3 separate regions of the Homo sapiens genome follow, and all the other regions are linked to region 1. Evidence: fine-mapped expression QTL. A gene starts in region 1. Each other region holds a variant in brackets. All regions are shown on one strand. Distances are between the middles of the regions. Region 1 holds the start of TMEM19 (transmembrane protein 19). Region 2 has its middle 36 kb from the start of TBC1D15. Region 3 overlaps LGR5 (leucine rich repeat containing G protein-coupled receptor 5).

Evidence for each region. PIP is the estimated chance that this variant, and not a neighbour inherited with it, causes the effect. A credible set is the group of variants that fine-mapping cannot tell apart.
Region 2: its variant is the best candidate, but not a certain one, in a credible set for the expression of TMEM19 in nasal epithelium (TOPMed, PIP 0.65).
Region 3: its variant is the best candidate, but not a certain one, in a credible set for the expression of TMEM19 in atrial appendage (GTEx, PIP 0.67).

What each region holds. Positions count from the first base shown.
Region 1 is chr12:71,684,188-71,688,551 of GRCh38, reverse strand. It overlaps TMEM19 (transmembrane protein 19), which reads right to left and starts at 2,470. Exons shown (of 6, transcript NM_018279.4): 1 at 1,742-2,470. The coding sequence starts at 1,871. It overlaps LOC124902965 (a long non-coding RNA gene), which reads left to right and starts at 2,488. Exons shown (of 2, transcript XR_007063367.1): 1 at 2,488-2,630. RefSeq lists an enhancer at 505-574 and silencers at 1,923-2,138, 2,129-2,198.
Region 2 is chr12:71,801,185-71,805,548 of GRCh38, reverse strand. No RefSeq gene overlaps it. Among named protein-coding and RNA genes, the nearest start is that of TBC1D15, 36 kb to the left of the region's middle. The variant A/G (reference allele first, on the strand shown) is at 2,051.
Region 3 is chr12:71,561,788-71,565,787 of GRCh38, reverse strand. LGR5 (leucine rich repeat containing G protein-coupled receptor 5) reads right to left here. Exons shown (of 18, transcript NM_003667.4): 8 at 3,936-4,000. The region is part of intron 2 of LOC105369833 (a long non-coding RNA gene); the gene reads left to right. Among named protein-coding and RNA genes, the nearest start is that of ZFC3H1, 100 kb to the left of the region's middle. The variant A/C (reference allele first, on the strand shown) is at 2,332.

The sequences.
Region 1 (4,364 bases):
TTTCTATCAAAAATGAGAAAATGGGCCGGGCGCAGTGGCTCATGCCTGTAATCCCAGCACTTTGGGAGGCCAAGGCAGGAGGATCCTGAGGTCAGGAGTTCGAGACCCAGCCTGGCCAACATGATGAAACCCTGTCTCTACTACAAATACAAAAATTAGCCAGGCATGGTGGCAGGCACCTGTAATCCCAGCTACTTGGGAGGCTGAGGCAGGAGAAACCAGAAGGCAGAGGTTGCAGTGAGCTGAGATCGTGCCACTGTACTCCAGCCTGGGCAAAAAGAGCGAAACTCCGTCTCAGAAAAATAAAGGGGAAATGAAAGACAAAGAGGGCCCAAGCATTCAACAAAAGATGAGAAATATCCTATTTCTGGAAATGAAAACTATTACCACAGGTCTAATACACAAAAACGTACACAGATTCATTTGCATTAGGTGACTGGCCCCAGAGGGATATTTCAGTTTACAAATCCTGATTTATTCCATTTAGTTCAAGTCATAGTAAATACTGTCACTAACAAGAATCTTTTCTTACACCCCTCCCCTAAAACTCTGATGCCCCACTGTGAATCATTATGAACGAACTGCACTGAGAGCTTCTGTAGCCTGGAGAACCCTTTCCAACTATTCACATGTCTCTTTGCAAAAAGCCTACAGTCTGAAATGGCAATCCCTTACGATACAAGCATTCTCATTCTCCTTTTCATTTTTCCTTTGTTGCAAACTGACCAGTATTTTGTTTTCATAGGAGAAGGAAGTTTGTGTAAATGGAGGCTTATGCTCTAAAGCACCTTTAAAACTTTAAAGATCTGAGTCCAGAGTACCTTATATTTAAGCAATGTAGCTTTAGGCTTTAAAAGGAGTCTATTCTTTTGAAGCAACCAAATGGCAGATAAGTCCTTCAGCTCTCCAAATGTAAATAGTATACCGTTTTTAATTCTTATTATTTTTACAGAACATGTGAAACTGATAAACTACATTACTACTTTTTTTTTTTTGAGACGGATTCTCGCTCTGTGGCCCAGGCTGGAGTGCAGTGGCTCAATCTTGGTTCACTGCAACCTCCGCCTCCAGGGTTCAAGTGATTCTCCTGCCTCCATCTCCCAAGTAGCTGGGATTACAGCTTTTTTCTAGTTTTAGTAGAGCTGGGGTTTCACCGTGTTGGCCAGGCTGGTCTTGAACTCCCGACCTCAGGTTATTTGCCCGCCTCGGCCTCCCAAAGTGCTGGGATAACAGGCGTGAGCCACCGCGCCTGGCCCATTACTAATATTCTTATTCAAAATTAAAAGCATCACTGTAATTGCTTTACAAAGCTATATTCGCCTCACTTATCTTTTACCAAGACAGATGGAATAGTTACATAAAATATAAAGACATTTTGAAATAGGTGTAACTAGTCCAGAAGTGGTGGCCTGTATTGCCAGCACTTTGGGAGACACAGGTGGGAGGATCACTTGAGCCTAGGGGTTTGAGACCAGCCTAGCAACACAGAGGGACCCCTATCTTATACAAAATAAAAATTAAAAAAAAAAAGAAATAGGTATAACTCGAATTATCACAACAAGCATTTATTAAAGGCATTGTTTATACTATCATGTTAGTAAGTTAAATCAGGCTATGGAAGTTAAGTAAACACAACCATTCATAACCATTCAGAGGATATGAGTTTTGGATTTCACAATGGTATGGTTTTAATTTCCTCTGACTAGATTACAGAGAAACAACTTAGAACACTCAGACTTACCATAATAGGTGCTTGCAGTCATTGATATAATCCAGAAAGCTAACGAAATGCAAATGATCAGGCTCAGTATAACTATATTAGTTATCATCTTTATATATCTTTTGCATATATTGTCGTTAAGATCTGTCATGGAAAATAAGGATATGAGCTCCTGCGGGAAAGAATATTTAGCGTTTCGGAGAGAAAGTCATTTACGATGTGAGCAAGACACTTGTTCAGAGGCAAACATAAATCCCAACATATTCCACCGACCAAACAAGCATAAAAATCACAAAAATTCAAACTCCTTCCGGAAACTCCTACTGGCGGAGAGCTCCAATTCATATGGGCGTGGTCAACGCCTCACCGCAAAAGCAGAGCGCAACCCGGCGGACGGTGAGGGCCGGTCGCCGGCTGCCGGCCGCTTCAGCGCCTCACGCCGGAGCCCACGGGGAAAAGAGAAAGCCGAGGCAGCCAATCCGCGGTCCCGGCGCTGGCGAGTTCCACCCACCTCCCGTCGCAACCTTCTCACCCGCGGGCCGGGTAGGCCAGCGGCTGCAAAGGGGCAGCTAGGGCACCCGAACTTGGGCAAGTCTGGGAAGCACGCCCGACGCGGCTGAACGCAGTCACGTCCCGACAGCTGCGCAAGCCGCCCTAGGGTCAGGTCCAGCCGGCCAAGGCCGAGACCCCAGGAGCAAAGCCCGCGCCTCCCGGCGCCCCCGCCTCTAGCGCCTCGCCCGCTGTGGGCATGCGCCGCAGCCGCTTAGGGGGATGTCGCCTAGCTCACGTGGGCAGGCACTGCTGGCATCCTGGCCGGCTGCGTTTGCACTGCTTCTCCAAAACCACATTATAGGTACTAAACAACATTGTTTAGTACCTATAATGTGCTAGACTCCTGGCTGCTAGCGAGGTAAAGTTAAACATAGTTTCTATTACTGAGCTCTCGTAATTATTGTCATAACACCACTTAGATTGTGGAAATATCTGTCCTCACACCCCTTATATTAAAGGTGTGTGCATTTAGAAAGCAAAACGTCTTGTTAGCATTAAAAATCTGAATCGTGGCTGATTTCTTTTCTTTTCTTTTTTTTTTTTTCGAGACAGTGTCTCTCTCTGCCGCCCAGGCTGGAGTGCAGTGGCACGATCTCTGCTCACTGCAACCACCGCCTCCCAGGTTCTAAGCGATTCTCCTGCTCCAGCCTCCGGAGTAGCTGGGATTACAGGCGCCACAACCACGCCCGGCTAATTTTTATATTTTTAGTAGAGACGGGGTTTTGCCATGTTGGCCCGGCTGGTCTCGAACTCTTGACCTCAGGGGATCCACCCACCTCGGCCTCCCAAAGTGCTGGGTTTAATGGCGTGAGCTACAGCGCCCGGCCTGATTTCATGTTTTATGTGAAATTAACTTGTTTGCCTGGGTTAACAGTAATTAACTGATAATTACATAATATTTATCAATTTTTTCAGTTAATTGCTGACAGTGTAAGAAGAGGAGCCAAATCCATTTCAGACACAGTATGCAATTGTGTTTTAAGCCCCAAGAGTAGTTACTTTAAAAAAGCTCACATTATTTTAAATTTCAAAATACATGCCAAGACAGCTTGTCATTTTCTTTGGTAAGACATCTAATTAAGTAGTTAACTAAGAATCAAATCTGTGAAGTAGGACTAAATAGTAGTGGGCTTCCTGTACTAGATAATATACATATATGGTCTTTATGCTGAAATGTATTATGTGCCTACTTTATTTTTGTCTTAGTCTGTTCTGCATAGGTAAATGTTTGGATTATTTCACCAAGCTGACTGGCCAGTATCAATGTTACCAGACTACTGGGTAAAATTATTAATAATGAAAGCTAATGTTTTGTGGTTTGCACAGTCGCATTGTTTTTGTCTCTGCTTAGACAAAATTATAAACTGGTCTTTTTTTTTTTTTTCTTTTTTTTGCCTTGCTTCACCACAGTCACAGAGTGACCCTCTCTGATTAGTTGGTGTTCGATAGGAAAATCATAGCCTAGTTGTGAATGTCAAGCTATCTCCCAACACTGTGGTGTAGCTGTGTCAGGTCAGTCCCTGGATGTCAGGGATGATTTTCTCATGACTATTAGATCTGGCTAAAAAATGCATATTAAATAGTAGTGTCAGTGAACTGACCCTTTAGATGAATATTTTCCCTTCTATTTTTTTCAGTGACCAATTATAGATGTTTTTCTCCATAAAAGTTATTCTAGCTTAAGACCAAAATAATTTAGAGGAGTTAATATAATTAAAATACAGTAGTTCTTATATGCAATAGGCAGTTTCAGTTACCAAGGGTTAAACATGATCTTGAGGCAGGAGAATAGGGTCTCCTATTGAGGCAGGGAACCTAAGGCCGATTCATGCTGACTTCCTAGAGCTAAATCAAAAGGAAAACCCCAACTTCCCATACCTAAGTAACAAAAGGACCCAAAGCTACGCCCTTTGCAAACCCCTCTTTTTTTCTGCGTGGCAGATAGAAAATTGAAAGTATCTCTGCTTGGTAGCTTTCTGCAACCAATCAGACGTTTGCGTAGGAGTGTAACTTTGTAACTTTGCTTCAGCCTCTAATTGGTTGTTTTTCACAACCAATCAGACTGATTGTGGGCTAGTACTTCATTTACATT
Region 2 (4,364 bases), 120 kb before region 1:
TCTCAATAAATAATAGAATTTAAAAGGATAAACAGTTTTTTTAGGCAACTTAAATCACCATTGCTTGCAAAATCCTAATATCACCTCTTTGGAGATCTAAAAAGTAGAGTAGAATTTAAAAACTACTTTCTCAGGCCTTTGAGTATCATCCAGAAGCATTTACAAAAGTGCTGGTACCAAGTGAAGTAACTCAGGAGTGAAAAGCCAAATACCGTGTGTTCTCATTTATAAGTGGGAGCTAAACTATGAGGATGCAAACACATGCAGAGTGATATGATGGACTTTGGGGACTTGAGGTGGGAGGTTGGAAGAAGGGTGAGGGATAAAAGACTACATTTTGAGTACAGTGTACACTGCTCAGGTGACAGGTGCACTAAAATCTCAGAATTCACCACTAAAGAACCTATCCCTGCACCCAAAAACCACCTGTACCCCAAACACTATTGAAATAAAAAAATACTGGTACCATAATGACTCCCCATGCACTCATCACTGTCACATTCACCTGCAGCCAGACACTGAGCCAAAAGGACTAATAAAGAGATAAGAACAGCAGTTCCAGTCTTCAAAGGAGTTCCTGCTCTAATTTAGAAGACAAGAAAACAGATCATCACAATTCAGTATTTATTCAGCAAATATTTTGTGACAGTCTAGGATGTGCCAGACATTATTCTAGATGCTAAGGATACAGTAGTGAACAACGTGGACAAAATCACTGTCCTGAAACATGAGAGTTCCCTGACCCCCTTCGCAGGATGTGTGACAGGGATGTGGCTTGTCGTGCTCAAACCCCTTGCAAGAAGGGGGAGCATGTAGATGGGCAGGTGCAGGAGCCAATGAGAGTGCTTTTGGCTCCGGCCCCATGGTAGCATCTAGGGGTGAGTGCCTGCAATTCCTGAAGCCCCAGTGGGCGTGTTATGGTGCTCTTTCAGCTGTGCTCTCCACAGACAGCTTAAGTGTTAACCAGCTCAGTGCCCTCTTGATACCTGGGTTCTTGTCCAGCGTCCAGGAAGAATCAGGTCATACAGACAAATTGAAGGATGGTAAATGTAGGGGATTTTATTGCCAGATGGAGGTAGCACTCAGCAGGATAATTGGGGAGCTGGAAAGGGAATGGAGTGGGAAGATGACCTTCCCCTAGAGTTTGGCCATCCCGTCACCGATCTCTCCAACCGTCCCCAGCCGAACTCCTCTCAATGTTCACACACTCCTCATCTCTCCTTCTTTGCTGCACTGCCCTTCTGACTCCTCTGTTCTTCTGCTCATGGAGCCCAGGGTTTAGGGTTTATTTGGGTACAGGAGAGGGGGGTGTGGCAGACCAAAAGGCAACATTTGGGCCTGAAAACAGAAATGCCTGTTCCCATTTAGGGCCATGGGTTTCCAGACTTGAGGGTGGGGTCTTTGCCAAGGAACCGCCCCCTTGTACCCAGTATCTCCCTACCTCCTGTACATATCACTTCCTGATTTTATCTTCCAACCAGGGAAAACAGACGTGAAAGAATGACTAAAAAGTACACTATGTTAGAGGGAATAGGAAGTGTTGAAGAAATTATAATTTTAAGAAGGGTGAACAGGAAGTTATGGGGTTCAACGGGATGACACAAGAGTTATCAAGAAGAACGTTGTAATTGACCTAGGTAAAAGCAATTTAGTGGAGTTATGGGATCAAGTCAAAAATTGTGGTAGGTTGAGAAGAGAACAGGAGAACATGGAAACAACAGTGTGAACTTTCATAGGAAGGAAGAGAGGTTCACAAAGATGAATTTTGTGGAAGGAACTTGATCATGTTTATAATTCTAGAAAAAGGGCCAGTAAAGAGACAGTTTGTTCAATATACTGTGGGGAAAATGGGAGAATCTATAAAAAGACCACCAGGTAGAAAGGGGTGGGATACAGGTAGTAGAGAGTGTTAACCCTGGAGGGAAAGAATGATATAAGCAAAATCTTCTGTTAATAGCAATAATTGCTAATATTTATTTAAAATTTACCATGTGTCAGAGTATTCTAAGCACTTTGTATGTAATAACTCATTTATTATGAGAAACCTTAT[A/G]AGGTACATTATTATCCCCATTTTATAAGTGAAGAAACTGAGACACAGAAAGTTAATTGTCCACATCACACAGAAAAATATAAGTAATATTTCAAACCCAGGCATCTGGTCTTTAAGTCCATGGTCTCAATCCCTACTGTATATCGATAAGAGAGAAAGGTGAGGAAGAGGGAGTTCAAAGAGTTTAAAGAATACCTTGAATTTTACATAGATGATGGTAAGAATAGACAAAGGGTTAGGGATTTTCAGAGAATGTCAGACTGAATATATAGCCAGAATTTTGGAACAAAAAGGATCATAAAGGTTGCTCATTTTCCTGAGGCCCAGAAATGCCCACTAGACTAAAAGCTTTATTAGGACAGGGATCATGTCCATTTGGTTTACCACTGTGAACACATGCAGCACCTAGCACTCGACCTGATGAATAACAGGCACTTATTAAATATCTATTGGCCAAATTAAGAAAGTTGAAAGTAAATATGTGCCTGAGGTATCGGGTTGAACCATATGAAATTGCCATTTAGGTTAGTCTTGATTCTCCTGCAAAGCACCTGCTCATCTTTCCTTTTTATTTCCCTTACCAAGCCCAGTGACCCAGCCAAATTAATTTGCTAGTTAAAATTTGCTGTTTCCCATTTCTATGACTTTGCATATATCCTCCTCTTAAAATGTTACTTCTCTTAAAATGTTACCATTGATCCATGTTTCTCTTCTTTCAAAGTCCGTTGCAAATACCAAGTATTCTTAAATGATTAAATTTATCTTTGTTAATTTATTACTCTGTCATTTCCTTTATCCCATTTTTCGTTTTCTTTGAGTAAAAATACTCAGTTTTTTAGTATATGCTGTTTACACCTAATCTTTCTTTAAGTTTTATTTTTATTTATTTATTTATTTATATTTTTATTTATTTATTTATTTTTGTGGAATAGACAATATATTGCATGGCTTCTACTTAAAAAAAAATACAAACAGGGCCAGGCACGGTGGCTCATGCCTGTAATCCCAGCACTTTGGGAGGCCAAGGTGGGCAGATCACGAGGTCAGCAGTTCGAGACCAGCCTGACCAACATGGTGAAACCCCATCTCTACTAAAAATACAAAAATTAGCCAGGCATGGTGGCAGGTGCCTGTAATCCCAGCTACTCAGGAGACTGAGGCAAGACTATCATTTGAATCTGGGAGTTCAAGTGAGTTGCAATGAACCGAGATTGCACCCTGCATTCCAGCCTGGGCGACAGAGTTAGACTCCATCCCCCCGCAAAAAAAAATACAAACAGGTATCCAGTTATTAATAGAAGTTTGCTTCCCACCCTTTCCCCTATCACACTCAATTTCTCACCACCATGGCTCAGATATGAGCCACCATGCCTGGCTTTTTTATTATTTTATAAAAATTAACAAGCTGATTCTAAAATTCATATGAAAATGCAAAGAACCTACAATAATAATAAAAAACAATTTGGAAAAGAACAAAGGTGGAGGGTTAGCACAATTTGATGTTGAGACTATAAAGCTACAGTAATCAGCACAGTGTGGTATTGGCATCAAAATAGACAAATCAGTGGAACAGAATAGTGTTCAAAATATAACCACTCAAAGACAAACAACTCATTTTTTTTAAAGGTGTAAAAGCAGGCTTGGCACAGTGGTTCACACCCATAATGCGACTACTTTGGGAGGTTGAGGCAGGTGAATCTCTTGAGCCCAGGAGTTTGAGACCAGCCTGGGCAACATAGAGAGACCTTGTCCCTATAAAAAATTAAAAAATTAGCCAGGCATGGTGGTGCATGCTTGTAGTCCCAGCTACTCCGTAGGCTGAGGAGGGAGGATCGCTTGAACCCAGGAGGTGGATGGAGGCTGCAGTGAGCCAAGATTACACCACTGCATTCCAACCTGGGCGATAGAGCAAGACTCTGTCTCAAAAAAAAAAAAAAAAAAAGTGAAAAGCAATGCAATGGAGAAAGGATAGCCTTTTCAACAACTAGTGCTGGAACAAAAAAAATGGACTGCAATTCTTACCTTGTACCATATACAAAAAGTAATTCCAAATGAATCATAAACCTAAATGTAAAACCTAAAACGATAAAACTTTTAGAATACATAGGAGAAAATCTTTGTGACCATGAGCTAAGCAGAAATTTCTTAGAAACACCACCAAAACACAATTCAGAAAGAAAAAGATTTAGCTGGACTTCAACTGAATTAAAAACTTTTGTTCTTCAAAAGACACTCGAGAACCAGTTGCTGTGGCTCATGCCTGTAATCCCAACACTTCAGGAGGCCAAGGCGGGCGGATCATTTGAGCCCGGGA
Region 3 (4,000 bases), 120 kb after region 1:
GTGCCATATACTTTTTAGCTGAGTCATTCTTCTAGTCCAATTAAACTCAACAAATATTCACTAATGTCTACCACGTTTAAAGTATGAGGGTAGGTATGTGAGGATTTAAAGATTGATTCATTAAAAAGCTGTCATTGGGTAACTACTTTGGACTTGGCATTATACTAGATGCTGGGGGTTTGAAGAAGAATGATAAGATGTTCCTGTGGTAAAGGAGCCTGGATTCAGTTGGGATAAAGCAAATAAATAACAGCATATCACTTTCTACTTAACAAAGCTCTTGCATATATGTATGTGTTATATATATATATATATGTATATGTATATATGTCTATATATGAGCTATATATATATATATATATATAGCTCAATTGATCCATGCAACAACTTTATGAGATTCATAGTGTAGATACTATTTTCTTCACTTTTGGAAGAGAAAATTGAGGCTCAGACACCTTGGCAAGCTCATTACCTCCTAGAGCCTCAATTTTCTAATTTGTTAAGCTGAGATAATAATGCTTAGTGGTAGGGTTTGGATAAGAATTAAAAGAGCTAATGCATGTGTAACATTTGAAATAGAACCTGGGATACAGTTGCTACCCAACAAACCTAAATCCTCTTCTGTCCTACCCACTGAGCTCTTCTTTTCTCTTGGGATTAATCAGTAAGAGAAAGAGCTAGAGCTGGAATATGGGCCTTATGATGAAAAATGGAGCTTTCCTCTTAATATCTTATCAGCTCTTAGCTATACCATGTACTTTATGCATATAATTGTGTTCACATACATGTACGTATATATATATACACACGTATATATACACACATACGTATATATACACATACGTATGTATATATACACATATATGTATATATAGTGTGTGGGTATACATATATTTATATATGTATATATACAGTGTGTGCACATATATGTGTATATATACACAGTGTGTGTGTACATATATGTGTATCTATATACAGTGTGTGTACATATATGTATATATGTATATATGCAGTGTGTACATATATGTATATATGTATATATATACAGTGTGTGTACATATATGTATATATGTATATATACAGTGTGTGTACATATATGTATATATGTATATATACAGTGTGTGTACATATATGTATATATACACAGTGCGTGTGTACAGATACGTATATATGCATATATACACGGTGCGTGTGTACAGATACGTATATATGCATATATACACGGTGCGTGTGTACAGATACGTATATATGCATATATACACGGTGCGTGTGTACAGATACGTATATATGCATATATACACGGTGCGTGTGTACAGTTACGTATATATGCATATATACACGGTGCGTGTGTACAGATACGTATATATGCATATATACACGGTGCGTGTGTACAGATACGTATATATGCATATATACACGGTGCGTGTGTACAGATACGTATATATGCATATATACACGGTGCGTGTGTACAGATACGTATATATGCATATATACACGGTGCGTGTGTACAGATACGTATATATGCATATATACACGGTGCGTGTGTACAGATACGTATATATGCATATATACACGGTGCGTGTGTACAGATACGTATATATGCATATATACACGGTGCGTGTGTACAGATACGTATATATGCATATATACACGGTGCGTGTGTACAGATACGTATATATGCATATATACACGGTGCGTGTGTACAGATACGTATATATGCATATATACACGGTGCGTGTATACAGATACGTATATATGCATATATACACGGTGCGTGTGTACAGATACGTATATATGCATATATACACAGTGCGTGTGTACAGATACGTATATATGCATATATACACGGTGTGTGTGTACATATATATGTATATATGTATATGTATACACACAGTATATATATACACACTATATACACACACACACACACACACACACTGGGCAGGTATGAATATACATGCTTGTGTGCATAAGGCAGAAGTATCATAAACACACATAAGGAGTTTTAGGGTTCTCAGGAGGGAACTCTCTCATATGTTCGGGAGAGATTATAAAAAACTTCAAGAAATGGCTTTTAAAATGGGCCCTGAAAGAATTTCAAGAAGCATAGTGAGGGAATGGGATCGTAGGAGCAAAGGAAGTAAGAAAAGAGCTTTGTTCCGTGAACATAACTTAGTCAGTCTGGTTTATGAATTAGGGTGAATGAGGAGAGCTTTGGGGAACTGGTTGACAGGGTTGGCTTAGGCCATGTGTGGCCTTAGACTGTGAATGTCAGGATGAGGAGTTTGCATTTAGTGTAAATAGACATCCTGAACGCACATTTCACAGCAG[A/C]AGTAACAAGATGGTTGCCGTGCTTCAAGGAAGATGAGTGCTGCCAACGGTGAAGGGAGGGAGGCCAGCCTCACGCAGACTGGTGAAAATCTGGATGTCATGGTTGGCAGAGAGGCTGGTGCAGTGGAGGTCAGGAGGTATGGATAGGATGGGGACTACAGAGGTGGAAATGAGGAGTGGGTAGCCAACTGGACCTGGAAAGCATTCACAGAAATGCGGGCTTTGAAGAGATGGAAACAGATGCAGGAGCAAGGAGAGGAGAGTTTATGGGAGAAAGTGGTCACCACTGTCAAATAGTGGATAGGAGGTCTAATATATATAGAGTTGGGGTTGGCGCCGCTAGTTCCTCAGGGAGTATTAGCATATCAAAAGAGTGATGAAAAACCAGTACTGTGGCTGCAGAAGGAGGAGCAAAGGCAATGTAATTTGCCAACCTCTTAATACGCAAATACGCTCTAATGAGGGCTAATGTTTATTGTCAATGTACTTTAAAACTCTTAGTTTGCCAAAATATTGCCAGAACATTTCAGAAACAATGAATAGTTTTTTTCTTCTGGTTGTCAAGGCTAATTGGGACTCCTGCTCATTTGTGACAAATACCACATGGTCCCAGAAAGCCCGTCACTCCAGTTGGCACAGGACCAACATCTGCTGAGAAGTGCCCCTAGAGTCATGTTTAACAGTTGTCCTTACTCTCCTCCTCTATATTCAGGCTTCTCATTCACAACCTCAGGTTTGATGGTGTCCCAAATCTGCCTCCGAGAGGAGCCTTTTGTCTAAGAGCCAGCCTCATACTCAGAACTGTATATCATCATTCTACTGTATTAAATATGAAACATAAAATTAGTTATACTTTGTAGTTGTAACTCTATTTTATCCTTTTGTTGGAGACAGGGCTCTGTTGCCCATGATAGACTTCGGAGGCATGATCATAGTTCACTGTAACCTCCAACTCTTGAGCTCAAGTGATCCTCCTGCATTGGCCTCCCAAAGTGTTAGAATTACAGGCATGAGCCACAGTGCCTGGCCGATTTTATTCTTTTATGGCATATAAATCCTCATACACACCTTTCTAAAATGTTATTTATCATTCTAGAATTACATCCTAGTTTGTATAAATGTGAATGTTTGGGCATAATAATGAATGGAGATAGAGGCTTAGCACAAAACAGTATAAAACCCCTACCATCAATTTAGGCTGGAGTCTATTGCTGTAAAAGACATCCATTTGTATATAATAATTTATATTTCTAGTATACTCGGGTTTAAGTTCAGAATGACTATGCAGACTTGACATTAATGCTCTAAAAATCAGTTTTATTTCTTAGAAAATAGAGGTAATCAAAAGCATTTTACAAGATTATTTTAAAGATACCTAGCACATCTGGAGATACCAATCATAATGTGATCTTTAAAAAAATCTTTTATATTATTTCAGTGTTCAGCTAGAACCTGGCAAAATGCATGTGTATATACCTTTCTGTATGAACTCTTAGATTGACTAAGACAAAACTCAGGCAAATATAGAATATTCATTGTATTTCAAAGTATAATATATGCTATATTTCAGGATGGAGAAACCGAAAAGCATTATGGTCACTTACATTGTAATAAGAGAAGGGTTGCCTACAAATGCTTTCTCAGGTATCGACCTGATATTGTTGCTATG